4 linked regions of the Homo sapiens genome follow. The protein of the gene in region 4 purifies or fractionates together with the protein of the main gene of each other region. This does not show direct contact. Each region holds a gene or a part of one and is shown on either strand. Other genes may lie near its edges.

Region 1 (3,918 bases), on a different chromosome or scaffold from region 4:
AGAAACAGAAAATGAAACACTACAGGTTCTCACTTATAAGTGGGAATTCAACAATGGGTACACACGGACATAAAGTTAGAAACAACAGACACAGGGGACTCAAAAAGGGGGAAAAAGGGACGAAGCCAAGGTTGAAAAACTATCTAATGGGTACTATGATCACTATTTGGGTGACGGGTTCACTACAAGCCCAAATCTCACCACCACACAATATACCCACGTAACAAACCCCTGTACATATATCCCCTGAATCTATATTAAAAAAAAAAAAAGACAAAGAAAAAAAAACCCAGCTCCCTAGCCAGTAAAATGAAGACTTCTAGCAATCTCTTTATTTGCATCTATTTCTGATTTACATATGTTGCAAACATTGTAGTACAACAATTACTAAATACAGTCCATTTTTTTTCAATAACATTAAAATGAGCCATCATGACAGACAGGAAATATAATACTAATCTTCAGCATGTTTCTTAGCATAGAAACACAATTATCTTGTCATGATCCTGTCAAACACTGAACACATCATATATAAAAATCAGCTCTACCCAATATCAAGAAGTTTTATCATTACCAAGAAATAAAATATAAGAACTGAAAATCAACCTAAAATATTTTAATCATAAAATTAAATCATAAAGCATGCTTTTGGTCTGATCAAATGTGTATATGCATTTATATAGCAATCAAATTCATCAATTATATTGCTAATTTGAATCACTGATTCATCAGTCTCTTAAAACATGAAAGAAATTTTGTATACAGTGTATACCAAATTACTAAGAACTTACTATGAATTTATTTTTGTTTGATTATGAAGCGCAAGGAAAGCTCATAAACTCATAGACCAGGTATGTCTTGAAACTCCATCCTAACATACTAGTCAGACAAAAGGGAACACTTCACTGTAATTACCACCAAAAGACTCTTAATTTCTAAGGTTTGCTATTTAATATTAACTCTTTCCATGATTTGTTTACTAAAAAAATTTGACATTATTAAGCCAGTAGGATCATAAACCAAGTGAAATATCTAACTGCCTAATAAGCATACACATGAGCTTTTCTTAAGTGTACCTGTTCAAAATAATTCTACAGTGGTTAACCTTGTTTTAGCAGAAAAAAATTTGAAGGTGCACAACAATATTAATGTAACTTGTGAAATATACATGTTATATAGAAATGCTAATGTTCATTTTAGCAGAAAAGCACAAATAAGTAAAATCATATAGTACATAATGAGTAACAGACCTGTAGTAGAGAATTACCAAATCTCATATAGTTGTTTCAGACAATAAATGAAATTGTTACGAATTTAACTTCTGCATTATGAGTATTAGTAATAAAAATATGTACTTGAGTAGACATAAATTATACAAAATATTCGGGAAAAAAGTAATGTGAAAAAAATTTTTGACACTATAATTACATATTTGCCCAGATGATGAAGTGGTAATAATGAGATTATTTTACCTTTATCTTGAACTTCTTTTGAGAAGCGCTCCCTTTCAATAGCTGATTCTCTCTCTATTCGCTCAATTTCAGCCAATGCATCCAATTCCACTTCATCATATATAGGTCCCTGTTGTGATATCTGTTGTTGATTCTGTACCACAGAAGTCTGGGGTTGTTTTGCAGCAACTGAAGTGTTCTGTTGTAAAACAGGCACTTGATTTGCTGGAAGGAATGCTGTTTGTTCTTGCTGCGACAAACATTGAGCAGCATTTAGTGGGCGGTTTATATCTTGTGGAGTAATGGGTGTTTTTGAAGTCTGTCCTGGGTACTGCACATTAAAAGGAATATCATTTTCTGAAACATTGCTATTTTCCACACCAGAAATCATATCCTCTTGCTGGTCCATGTCTGAAGACCTTACACGAGAAAGTCTTAATGTAAGTTTAGTAGAGTCCTTGGATGGAGAACTAATTATATCATACATTGCCGCTTTCTCACTCTGCTCTTTTTCATCCTTGCCTAATTTCATTTTCTTCTGCTTCTTTTGTTTTCTTTCTGGAGAATCTAGCAAGATATCTGGTGGAACATCTCGAGGTGATGAACAAGGTAGAGACTGAGATTGTAGGATTAAAGGTGGTCTTGAGCCTAGAAAAATAATTCGATAGAAGTAACAGTTGTGGTGGTTTCACATTTTCTTACAATGTGATAGAAATATTAATAAGTGACAATATAGTAATACTAGAAAAAAATAAGAAATTATATAATCCAAGCTACTTATTTACGAAAGATGAAAAGAAAGCTTAAAAACTTGTCCCACACAGTTGTTTAGCTTGCTAGTAGTTAATCTAAAATCTAGGTTTGAATCTAAGTATGAGTATTCAATTTTTCAGACCAGTATTATTTCTATATTTTTGTGCCTATAAAGTATACATATTTAGCTTTATAGGGGTAAAAAGTTCATTGCTTCTAAAGATGATACAACACAAATATTTTGGGTATGACCATCTCTGTTCTTTCATGGACTATCTGGGAAAACAGATATATCCTGATTAAAGTAAGAATAAGTACGCTTTTGTTAAATTACACAAAAATAACAATTTAATCCTAGAGACTATCTTACATGAATACTACTGGGATGATAACAAAAAGCAAGTGGTCAATTTACAATTACTAGAGCCTTTACTTACTTCAAAAACTGGTGGTAAAATATTGATTTATACTTTTATGTGGTCTTCTCTTTCTCCCTTAACATCATTCACATACTCTCTTCAGCTTGCTAATCCTCTTTTTATTAGAAAAATAAATAAGTTCAGTAAATTTCAAGGCCCAATAAAATATATTGAGCCCAGAGTCCATTAAATCAACCAATGTTATATGAAACAGGAAAGTGTTAAAAATAATCAGATGGAAAAATTATCCTAGTTAATAAGCCTTCAGACAAAAATTCTCCTTCAGACATGAAGGAAAAAGTGCATTGATATGCTTCAGAAATAATAGTATAACTGCATCTGAATAATGTATACATTTCTTATCACTAAACTATAAAATATTTAAAAACTTGTAAGAAATTGTAAAAATTGGTCAAGATAAAAGTTTTTTTACAGACAGAACTTAAACCTAGAACTGCCTTCAATTAAGCTTTCAGTCTTTTTCCATGATACATAAATCTGGACTTTCAGTTAGCAAGGTTAATGTATTTTAAATGTTATATATAAACATACAACTTTATTTATTGACTCTAGTGTGATAAAGATGATATGGGAGCAATTAACTATAAATGTTAGTCTAACATTTTGTGTCAGAGTTGTGAAAGGTGCTTTACATATCAATTCACTTGATTTTTACAACATTCTTGAGTATTATCTTTAAAATTTTTCAGAAATGGAACATGAAGCCTACAGAGGTTAAGAAATTTGCCCAAGGTTATGTAGTTAACAAACCTGAAGATTTAAAACAAGATTTGTCTAAGTCTGAATTGTAATATACCATTATGCCTTTGTATTTAAATTCTATGTGGCAAATTATATACACTTTAGAACAAACTTCAAATTCTAATAATTAATCTAAAAATCAAGATAGACTGACAATGCACTTACCCTTCAAAACTAGTTAGAAAACAACTTCATGACAGAAGTTCAAGCTTTTGGTGAATAATATATTAGTGAGGTTATTTGTTTTAAAGTTTTCCATTTCTATCTAAAGTTCATCTACTATTTATCTATCTAATCTCAAGAGTCAGAAGAAAAAAAGCTAGTTATCTAGATCAATCACCTATCTCCCTGTTCTCTTTCCCCGGCAATCTAAATAACTTCTCACCTTGACAACACTTGTGGGATATGTATCTAACCTACAAATAGTTACTCTGGAAGTTTTTCTCTCTTTCAGAAGCCGGGTTTTTATCCCTGAAAATTCATACAATTTACAGAATTGAAATGGCTCATAACAGCTCAACTTTCACTCTATG
Region 2 (3,918 bases), on a different chromosome or scaffold from region 4:
TGTATACCACTTTAATATGCAACATAGAATCCTTTAAATCTGTCACAGGATTATATGTTATGTGAGCGGCATCACAATGTACTTTGTAGAAAAAAAACGCTAAAGAAGCCTATAGACCATGAAAATAATTTATTTTTATTTATTTTTTGAGATAGAGTCTCACTGTTACCCAGGCTGCAGTGCAGTGGCACCATCTCGCTCACTGCAACCTCTGCCTCCTGGGTTCAAGCAATTATCCTGCCTCAGCCTCCCTAGTAGTTGGGATTACAGGTGTGTAGTAACATGCCCAGCTAATTTTTGTATTTTTAGTAGAAATGAGGTTTCACCACGTTGGCCAGGATGGTCTCGAACTCCTAACCTCAGGTGATCCTCCTGCCTCAGCCTCCCAAAGTGCTGGGATTACAGGCATGAGCCACCACACCCAAAAACTGTTTCTGATACTCTCTCCCTACTTAGAAATATTTACTTAGATGTTCATGGGAGAGAAAAGACAATAACAGATAACACTTCAAATGTTTATTGTGCTAGTCAGATATTCCTGCTTACTTACAATTTTTAATTCTAGCCTTGTTTATTTCTGAAAAAATCAAATCAATTATTTTAGCAATACAGAAATAAAAGTCAATGATAGGAGGTAAAAAGCAGAACTTCTATGCTGCTAGTATCAGTCATTCAATACTAACAGACTTAAAATATACTTTTGTGAAAATAAGGCCTCAAACTCAAACAGTTTTTCAGAACTACATTTTGAGGAAAAATATTTTATAAAGTGATTACCTTGCATTTCACAGCACCCAAAGTAGTAGCGTGACACAGCCATGTTACCAACTACTTCCCATTTATTTTCATCAGGATCAAATCGTTCAATGGTGTTCCCTATCTCAGCTCCAACCCATCCACCTGTAATGAAATAGAAAAATGTTTGTTTCCGGGATAAAAGATTCTTATTTATGACAAAGACCTTAGAAAACATCTAAACCAAATACTTCATATTATAGATATCACATGAGCCAAAGAGGTTATCTGTTCCACGATCCCATGAAAAAGTTAGAATTTGACCATGAGTAGAACTCAGGTCCTTTGCATAACTGATGCTCTTTTGAGAAAAAAAAAAAAAAAAAAAAAAAGGAATTCAAGTCTTTTAACTCCCTATTTTTCACTAAAGACTAAAACAAAACAAAACAACAAAAGCCCCAAAACTTCAATATATTGCATGGAAAAGATGGTATTTTGCAAAACTACCTTTTGAAATTACTTCTGGCTATTTAGAATGTTTATCCTAATCAAGGCCAGCTCCAAACCTAATCAGAGTATACCGTGTATTTGGTGTAATTTCAGGAATTTCAAAAAGGCCCCTTATCCCCACAATAACATTTTCTTAACACTCTCCAATTCTTTTTTTTTTTGAGATGGAGTCTCACTGTGTCACCCAGGCTGGAGTGCAGTGGTGCAATCTCGGCTCAGGCTCAGTGCAAGCTCCACCTCCTGGGTTCATGCCATTCTCCTGCCTCAGCCTCCGGAGTAGCTGAGACTACAGGCGCCCACCACCACGCCCAGCTAATTTTGTTTGTATTTTTAGTAGAGACAGGGTTTCACCATGTTAGCCAAGTTGGTCTCGATCTCCTGACTTCATGATCCGCCCGCCTCAGCCTCCCAAAGTGCTGGGATTACAGGCGTAAGCCACCATGTCCAGCCAACACTCTCCAATTCTTAAAACTGAAAATATTATTTCCCACAATTAACTGAAAAATGCAGATACTTATGGAGGTAATAAAATATAATAGATTAAATTCACCTTAAGGTAACTGATATTTTTTCCACAATAGGTTTGGATGAGGGGAAGACACTGAGTTACAGTGAACTGAAGAAGGAGTGAGAAGGAGAAAATAGGGGAGGCTGAGAGCTACATCAACTTATAACTTTCCCTAGGAACAACCTTGATTGTAACATTTGTTACACAGATAATCAAAGTAGAATACCTTGCTCATAATCATTCACTACATATACAAGAATAAAAATAATATAGTACAGAACTTCCTTGTGATATATTTAATTTTTTGGTATGTGCTTTCTTATATTAGACATAATTAGGCCACTATGCAGGGTGGTAAAAATGTTATATGCTTAATTAAAATAATGAGATTTAACTACTCAGCTAAAGTACTTCACTGGATGTCTCATCTATATTTTATCTCCAGTAATACAATTTTGAGAATAAGAATTTAAAGAGCTGACAAGTGCATCTACAGCATACAGTAGCTCCAGAGATACCTGCAGAAGAATGTGTGTGACTAGCAGCTTGGTCAGCCAGCCAACTGGCCAGGCAGGCATCTACCATCTGCCCAAGAACTGATGCATCTGCCCAACAAGGCTCTGCCCTGCAGGTGCTCAGGTCCTCCTGTACCATCCCCCGCCTGAGTGCCTCCTTAGGATGGACAGCCCAGGAGCACCCCCTCCAATCCCTGACCAGCTGACCCCCACCTACACCTTCCCCTAAGACCTTGCCCAGCCTCCAGAGTATACAGATTAAAGCCAGTTGGTTTTTAAAAAAAGAATGTAAAGAGCTGAAAAGAGGGAAAGAACATCTCCAAAGTCATCAGAACCCAATAATTTAAATAATATTAGCTATCTTTATAAACATTGCATATTCTCACTTCTTTGTGGGATCTAAAAATCAAAACAATTGAACTCATGGAGATAGAGAGTAGAAGGATGGTTACCAGAGGCTGGGAAGGGTAGTGTAGTGGGGGTGGGGAGGGAGGAGGTGGGCATGGTTAATGAATACAAAAAAAAAAAAAAAAGAATGAATAAGACCTAGTATTTGATAGTGCAACAGGGTGACTATAGTCAATAATTTAATTGTACATTTAAAAATAACTAGAAGAGTATAACTGGATTGTTTGTAACATAAAGGATAAATACTTGAGGAGATGGATATCCCATTTTACAAGATGTGATTATTACGCATTATGTGCCTGTATCTCATGTGCCCCATAAATATATATACCTATTATGTATCCACAAAAATGAAAATTAAAAATACATAAACAATATTAGCTATCTTTAAACTGAACAACATAATTACCCAAAGCATAGATAGCCCCATAACACACACACACTCCTAAGCCGCAGCGGGGATGATTCATCGAAGCTACAGTTGTCCACTGTTTAGTAACTGGATCATAGCATTCAGTACAATCAAAAATCATTGAATCCTTTTCACCTGAGTTAAATAAAAGAGACAAATATTATAAAGTTTAGTAATGCCAACAGACTAGCACCATAACACAATATTCAGTAGTATTCCCTATCGTCAAAAATTCAACCATTATGTCTGATTTTATACTATTCATTAACTTTCATTTGCCTGTCAAGCAGTATTTTGAATCTAGAGCACTGTCATTTATTAAAGCCCACTTATGAAACAGAGGCACAATTTTCCTATTATCTATTTCTACCACCCAAACAATCAAACAATCCATGTAATGTTTTAGGATACAATTTGCATTTTAACACTTCTATATTTTTTTTCACATATTAGTTTTGGTGGCTGGCCCTGGTACAATTTGAGTTTTAATGTAATCCTTTTCTAACAACAAACAGAAAATGAAATTTTTCTTTTTTTGGAGACGGAGTCTCGCTCTGTCGCCCAGGCTGGAGTGCAGTGGCACAATCTCGGCTCACTGCAAGCTCCGCCTCCTGGGTTCATGACATTCTCCTGCCTCAGCCTCCTGAGTAGCTGGGACTACAGGCGCCTGCCACCGCGCCCAGGTAATTTTTTGTATTTTTAGTAGAGACGGGGTTTCACCTTGTTAGCCAGGATCACAAGATCCTGACCTCGTGATCCGCCCGCCTCAGCCTCCCAAAGTGTTGGGATTACAGGTGTGAGACACCGCACCCAGCCTGAAAATGAAAAAA
Region 3 (3,918 bases), on a different chromosome or scaffold from region 4:
ATAGAACACAAGATCCATAACAGTATAAGAGAAAAGACAATAAGGGCTGGAATAAACAAAAAGGGTTGTCTAGTATGTGTGAGACATAAGTTGGAGGAGGAGAAGGTGAATTTCAGGACAGGGTGGCAACTTGAGAGGTAGAGGTGGGAGGGAAAGTATCATTAGCAGTAATGTGAAGAGACTGGTGTAGAGGAAGATGCTGGAAAGAGATAGGTAACATCTTTGTATGGGTACAAAGGGCCCAGCTATGCATGTTAGGTTAAAATGTTTAAATGTTCTGGGGTACTAATTATATTTTTTTATTTACAGTTTTCATAGTGAAGTAAAAGTATTTGCCATATTGTCACCATTGGATTAAAACTCTTCTATATTTGTGAGTTTGAGAGTTGGGGGAAGTATTCGTTTGTTTGTTTGTTTGTGTTTGTTTTTGAGACAGGGTCTTGCTCTGTTGCTCAGGCTGGAGTACAGTGACACTATCAGGGGCTCACTGCACCCTTGACCTCCCGGACTCAAGTGATCTCCCACATCTCAGCTTCCTGAGCAGCTGAGACTACAGGCACATGCCACCACACCCAGCTGATTTTTGTATTTTTTGTAGAGGCAGGGTTTCACCATGTTGGCCAGGCTGGTTGCAAACTCCTGGGCTCAAGCTGTCCACCTGCCTCAGCCTCCCAGAGTGCTAGGATTTCAGGCATGAGAGTTGTGTTAAATAACCATTTAGTCTAGTAATGGTATTTTTAAATCTCTGATTCCACTGGGCTTTGGATCAAGTGGCAAAGTCCCTACTTTAGAAGCAAGTGTCAAAGAAAAATCACACTGGACACATTAAAAAGGCAAGAAAGGCTTTATTTAAGACCATTGCAAAGGGGTCAAGACTGTTACAACAGAGGACAAAAATTGAACTCAACTACTCCAAAACAAAAGGTTGGAGTGTTTGTGCTTGCTGAGGTGAGCTACTGGAAAAGTCCTAGAGGACATTAGCCCGGAAGTTGGTTTGTGTGCTTAGGCCATCTCTGTTTGCTAATTGGTTCTTATTGAAGTTAGGCTTCTATCTTCTCACGGAGACTGGAAGATAGGGCTGCTGTTTTTCTTGATGTTTATATTTCAAAGGGATGCCTTCCATGTCCTTGAGAAAGATACTCCTTGGTTGTAGAAGATTTACATCTCAAAGGTGCAGAGGAAGAATTTACAATTGCAAGTTTTCTAAAGTGAGAGCTGTAAGAAAAGAGCGGTCAGGGTCTTATAGTCAGGAAGGAACTTTCTACAAGTTTAGTCAAGTTGAGGGGAACATTAGGCCATTTTGATAAGAAGATACTTTTTTAGTGATTTTGTTATGTGGAGCCAGCCCTTGAACGCTGGTAACTCTTGGAAATATAAAATAAAAAAAAGTTCAATTAATTGTTTTTAGGACAAAAATATTATGTGTATAATTACCTGTCAAATAACCCAAGGGGAGATCTTTATTTTGTTTCTCTCTGGATCTCAAGTGCTTTTTGTTACTTTTGTTCCTTATCAGAAAAACTATGTCCTGAGGCTTTTCTTCTTCAGACAATGCTTTAACGTAAAATTGAGGTTCATATGCTGCTACAAGTCTCATTTAACTTTCCATTTTTATTTAAGGAACCAAATGGACTTTCAGGCTGCCTTTATGCTGGTAATTAGGGCAACTTGTTGTGAATTTCAATGTGTTTGAGTGGTAGCACATATTAATACATTACACTTTCTCTCAATTTCATCACTATTCAAGTGCAACATCCTACACAGTATAAGCATTTTGAAATTCAGAACCTTGTGGATGACCCAGACTATAATAACTGCAGCAGTTCAGCTTACAATTTTATGGTGCTTTATTATTTTTAATCACTTTTAAACGTGTAATCTCATTTTGTCCTCCGGGTAAACACAGTGGTAGGATTTATTTTACAGAGGCTGCCATACAAATGGCAAGACTTGACTCTGGCCTCTGGCTCCTAGCTTAATGTCTCATTCGAAAGTTGTGAAGAATTTTTTAGATCTAGATATTTAATCAGCCTGCACTTGAAAATCACTATACTTCCCTTTTTTAAGTGCTAAATTGGGATACTTCTCAAATATTCAGTTATTTATAGGAAGCCTTCATAATTATTGAAGTCCATTAAATCTATTGGGTCATCTTGCCATAGGCATAAGGATTCAAGCTAAAGGCACATGATTTTGTTTAAAAATAAAGATTACAATAAAATAAGATTAACAAAAGTACTTTTATACTTCCAGAACAAAAACTCAAAAATACCCTGTGGCATTGAAAATAAGAATCATTTCTGAAAACTTCTGCGTATGCTTTGGCATATCTTAGAACTTTCTATATGTCTAATATAATATAACAAATATTTCTGTGTTAATATCCATCCAAAAAGAAATGATTTGACACACTGTATATAGGCAGAAAAACATAATTTTGAATATTTCATTCTGAAATAGACACCAAGAAAAATTTTGTTAAATTTATTTACCCTAATTGCTTATGTTTGAAATATGTGTTCTGTCATCAGGCAACCCTGCTCAGCCCACTTCCCTCCACTACATGAATCCTTACCAACTGAATGCCTATGGTATGGCACTAAAAGCAGTGGGAGAAATTGTTCAAGATTATGACAGTGATAAAATGTTTCCAGCTCTAGGATTTGGTGCAAAACTGCCTCCAGATGGAAGGATATCTCACGAATTTGCTTTGGTAAGAATTTGTCAAAAGGATTTGATGTTTTGAAAAATTAATGTTAGACCTTTTAATATTGCTTTGGTACTTATTCTTTAGTCAGTCAAGTAGCAAGCTTTACTGACTGTAGCTTAATTTTGGTAAGTAATTGACTTTGGAGTGTGAACTTAATGGGAAAAAAGGACAGCTAAATAGCTTAGCCATAAATCTACCTGAAGTGCACCCACCTGATTTACAAATGGGGGTCTATTTTGGTTATCTATTGCTTGCTAACAAACCTTCCTAAAACTTAGAGATATCAAACAATATCATTCTATTATGCTTATGATTTGTGCCTCAGGAATTCAAGCAGAATATAATGGGAGACAGCGCATTTTTGCTTTGCAGTACCTGGAGTCTCAGCTTAGGTGACTTGAATGGCTAGAGATGCCTGGAATTGGTGACTGGGGCCATATTTTTCAACTTAGTTCTGGCTGTCTTTTGAATTCCTTAGATCTTCTCCATGTTATGTCTTCTGGGGCTGATATGTCTCCTAACATAACTTCTTTGCTCATGTTCATTCATGTCTTGGGCCTGAGCTTGGATAGCTGAAAAGCTGGGGTTGCCTGGACAACTCTCCCTTGTTTTACATATGGCCTGTCTCTGTAGTTATGGAGGGCTTCAGAACTGTATAGTGGTCTCACTGTAGCAAGATTTCTTATGTAGCAGCCAGCTTTCCCAGGGTGAGTAATCTAAAAGTCTAGGACAGAAACTCCAAGGATGTTTATATCATATTCTTAGAAGTCCCAAAATGTTATTTCTGCAACATCCTATTGGTCAGGCAAGTTACTAAGACCATCCCAGGTTCAAGGTAGAGGAATTAACCTTCACTTCTCAATGGGAAGAGTATCAAAGAATGTGTGGCTCTCTGTAATGTACCATCATTTTTAAAACCTAAGAAAAGAAATAATTGTGTTAAACTAAATGAGGTTTATTAATTTTCCTTTCATATGTTTCTTCTCACCATTGAATGTTTCCCTTTCTCTGTCTCTGTAATTCTCTCCTTTGCTGCCTTTCCTGCCTCTGTGTTCATTCCTTGTAACCAAACCTATACAAATATATACTGGTTTAGCCTCCAAAATCAGAAAAGTAAATGTTCCAAAATCTGAAACTTTTTGAACTCAATAAGATACTCAAAGGAAACGCTCATCAGAGCAATTTGGATTTTGGATATTCATATTTGA
Region 4 (3,918 bases):
TAAATAATCTGTTTCTTTCTCTTTAATTGCACTAGACTGTAAGAGTCTTGAAGGTAGATGCTGGATCCATAATTCTAGTAACCTGGCACACGAGTTAACTCAATCTTTGTTGAACTAAGCCACAATTTTTCTAATCTCTCTCAAAAAGGCCATATAATTGGGGTGAAGGAGACCGTATCACTGAAACATAAACAATCTTCACATCAATACTTAATTCTTGCCTACAAAAATGGGCTTATAAATAAAACTAAAAGTTTCTTCCTCATAAGATTTCCTTCCCCTTCACAAAATCCATGATACCAAGCAATTTTTGAGGCAGACAATTATGGTTTCAAATTGCCTTGTATTAACAATATGATTACAATAATGATAAAAGCATAAATTCAGTTGATAATCTGCTCCCAAGGTCTTGAATGCACACATTTCTACCTAAACAACATTAAGAGAAAATAGCACATTGTATATGAAGAATTCTCAACAAATTAGAACTTACTTATGTGCCCTCTTTACAAATGTATTTGCTAATTGAATGAGAAGTGGTATACAGCTTGAGCATCCCTACTAGGAAAATCTGAAATACAAAAATCTGAAAATCCGAAATGCCCCAAAATCCAAGTTTTTGAGCACCAACATACATAATGTCACAAGTGGAAAATTCCACCCCGACTTAATGTGACGAGTCAGTCAAAATGCAGTCAAAACTGTTTCATGCACAAAACTATTAAAAATATTGTTTAAAATTACCTTCAGACTATGTGTGTAAGGTACTTATGAAACATAAATGAATTTCATGTTTAAACTTGGGTCCTTTCCAAGATACCTCATTATGTATATGCAAATATTCCAAAATCCAAAAAAATCTGAAATCCAAAACACTTCTGATACCAAGCATTTTGGATGAGGGATACTCAACCTGTTCTGATGTGTCATGCATTAAGAGAGAAACAAGAGTAGATAACACATATAAATAAAGAAAATTACAAAAAGATCACAAATCAAACATTAAAGGCAACAAAGTCAAGATTTGCTGTAAAACTTTATGTATATTTACAGTTGGCTATATAAAAAATAATACATGCATGCAAGGTTCTAGAGTAGACTCCTGAAGGAGTTACTAAAGGAATGACCTCCAGACTAAGAGGTGGACACACTCAGTTTCCAGTCCTTAATCTATCATTAGTTAGCTGTGAGACACTGCTTAAGTCATGCAATCATTCTAGCACTTTGTTTCCTCAACAGCAAAAGAAATTATTGGACATCAGATCTGGCATTTCACATGTAAATTTTACCTAAAAAATAAACAAACAAAGAGCTGTCAAAATGGGAGATGAGTCATTAATTAATCAGAGCTGTCTTCATCCTTCCATCATATACAACTCATCCTGCAGCAACCTCATTAAGACAAACATTCACTACATGTTAAGGAGTCTTCAGAATGATTCATCACAATAAAACACAAATGTTATTGGACTAGATGACCTCTTTGGTCTCCTCCAGCTCTAAAATTCTCTGGGTCTGTTAATTTATACTCTACCTTACAAATGGTATGATTACTAAATTTACATTAACTTACTATATTCATGAAAGAAAAAGCTAAAGTCATTGCCCTCTTTGACACCAAATGACATTTTCAAAAGTAGCAGCATGTTTCCACTTAGTCTACATTTCTAGCCTGACTAATCTGAAATCAAGTTTCAGGTATTACAACTGTCCACCTTTACTCTCCACTACTTCCATAAGCCTTCATTATAAAAGGAGGAGGAGGACTTGGGGAAAAAACAGATTTCTCCGTCACCTAAGAAAAAAAATCAAGACAACTAGGGAAGAAGGACTAAGTATAGGAGCATTATATAAAATATCAACTTGGCCAGGTGCGATGGCTCACACCTGTAATCCCAGCACTTTGGGAGGCCGAGGCGGGTGGACCACTTGAGGTCTGGAGTTCGAGACCAGCCTGGCCAACATGGCGAAACCCCGTCTCTACTAAAAGCACAAAAATTAGCCAGGCGTGGTGGTGCACACCTGTAATCCCAGCTACTCAAGAGGCTGAGGCAGGAGAATCGCTTGAACCCGGGAGGCAGAGGTTGCAGTGAGCTCAGATTGCGCCACTGCGCTCCAGATTGGGTGACAGAGCGAGACTCCGCCTCAAAAAAAAAAAAAAAACAACTCTACAACAGGAAGATTCTCTTTTTTTTTTTGGTTTTGAGACAGAGTTTCTCTCCTTGCCCAGGCTGGACTGCGATGGCGCGATCTCAGCTCACTGCAACCTCCGCCTCCAGGGTTCAAGCAATTCCCTGTCTCAGCCTCCCGAGTAGCTGGGATTACAGGCATGCGCTACCATGCCCGCCTAATTTTTGTATTTTTGGTAGAGACGGGGTTTCGCCATGTTGGCCAAGCTGGTCTTGAACTCCTGACCTAAGGTGATCCACCTGCCTTGGCCTCCCAGAGTGGTGGGATTACACGCGTGAGCCATTGCGCACAGTTAGAAGGATTCTTTTTTTTTTTTTTTTTTTTTGAGACGGAGTCTCACTCTGTCGCCCAGGCTAGGGCACAGTGGCGTGATCTCGGCTCACTGTAACCTCTGCCTCCCGGGTTCATGCAATTCTCCTGCCTCAGCCCCCGTGGCTGGGATTACAGGTGCACACCACCGCGCCCAGCTAATTTTTGTATTTTTAGTAGAGACAGGGTTTCACCATGTTGGTCAGGCTGGTCTCAAACTCCTGACCTTGTAATCCGCCTGCCTTGGCCTCCGAAAGTGCTGGGATTACAGGCGTGCGCCACTGTGTCTGGTCGAAGGTTATTTTAATCCTATTCACAACAAAGTGTGTGATAAAGACAGGTGGTCTTTCTGGATCATCAATATTTCTGATATATGGTCTTCTCTGCTTTTCCATTTAGCTAATATTATAAAATTATTTAAAAACTACTAAATATAATAAACTTATCAAAAACATTTGGCAAAATACAGAACTATACAAAAAATAAAACAACTGAGTTAGGCTGATAAAATTATAGGGTTTTCTCTGACTTAAAGTTTTCTTCAATAAATAAGAAAGAAAAGAATGTGTTTTTGGCCGGGCACAGTGACTCACTCACACCTGTAATCTCAGCACTTTGGAAGGCCCACCTAGGAAGAGGTCACTTGAGACTAAGAGTTCAAGACCAGCCTAGGCAACAGTGAGACCCTGCCTTTATTTAAAAATTTTAAAACTTGGCCAGGCGTGGTGGTGCACACCTGTAGTTCCAACTACTTGGGAGGCTGCGGCAGGAGGATCGCTTGAGCCCAGGAGGTGAAGGCTGCAGTAAACTGTGACTGTGCCATTGTACTCCAGCCTAGGTGAGAGAGTAAGACTCTGTCTTCTTTTTTTTTCTTGAGACTGAGTCTTGCTCTGCCGTCAGGCTGCAGTGCAGTGGCACGATCTCAGCTCACTGCAACCTCCTCCTCCCAGGTTCAAGCAATTCTCCTGCTTCAGCCTCCTGAGTAGCTGGGACTACAGGCATGCGCCACCATGCCCAGCTAATTTTTGTATTTTTAGTAGAGATGGGGTTTCGCCATGTTGGCCAGGATGATCTCGATCTCTGGACCTCATGATCTGCCCATCTTGGCCTCCCAAAGTGCTGGGATTACAAGCGTGAGCCACCACGCCCAGTCAAGACCCTATCTCTTAAGAAAAAAATAAATAAATAAATAAATAAATAACAATGATTTTTCTAAAACCATTATCAATCTGTTTTCTCTAGAGAAGCAATATATGGGTTGTTAGATTACTGATGACTAAAACACACTCTTAAAATATACACTGATTTTTTTTTTTTTTGAGACGAGAGTCTTGCTCTGTTGCCCAGGCTGGAGTGCAGTGGCGCAATCTCGATTCACTGCAACCTCCATCTCCTGGGTTCAAGCGATTCTCCTGCCTT

The links.
Region 1: the proteins of CTDSPL2 (region 4) and NIPBL purify together in Homo sapiens (affinity purification with mass spectrometry, with the first as the bait; one large-scale study listed by BioGRID). This does not show direct contact.
Region 2: the proteins of CTDSPL2 (region 4) and IPP purify together in Homo sapiens (affinity purification with mass spectrometry; one large-scale study listed by BioGRID and IntAct). This does not show direct contact.
Region 3: the proteins of CTDSPL2 (region 4) and CPNE8 purify together in Homo sapiens (affinity purification with mass spectrometry; one large-scale study listed by BioGRID and IntAct). This does not show direct contact.

Annotation. Positions count from the first base shown.
Region 1 is NC_000005.10:36,973,957-36,977,874, reverse strand, and holds part of NIPBL (nipped-B-like protein), read right to left. Parts: intron 2,100-3,918; coding exon 1,473-2,099; intron 1-1,472. UniProt on the Homo sapiens protein: Plays an important role in the loading of the cohesin complex on to DNA. Forms a heterodimeric complex (also known as cohesin loading complex) with MAU2/SCC4 which mediates the loading of the cohesin complex onto chromatin.
Region 2 is NC_000001.11:45,716,118-45,720,035, forward strand, and holds part of IPP (actin-binding protein IPP), read right to left. Parts: intron 3,224-3,918; coding exon 3,086-3,223; intron 901-3,085; coding exon 778-900; intron 1-777. UniProt on the Homo sapiens protein: May play a role in organizing the actin cytoskeleton.
Region 3 is NC_000012.12:38,692,452-38,696,369, reverse strand, and holds part of CPNE8 (copine-8), read left to right. Parts: intron 1-309; coding exon of another isoform or gene 310-326; exon of another isoform or gene 327-458; intron 459-2,531; coding exon 2,532-2,713; intron 2,714-3,918. UniProt on the Homo sapiens protein: Probable calcium-dependent phospholipid-binding protein that may play a role in calcium-mediated intracellular processes.
Region 4 is NC_000015.10:44,433,854-44,437,771, reverse strand, and holds part of CTDSPL2 (CTD small phosphatase-like protein 2), read right to left. Parts: intron 1-3,918. UniProt on the Homo sapiens protein: Probable phosphatase.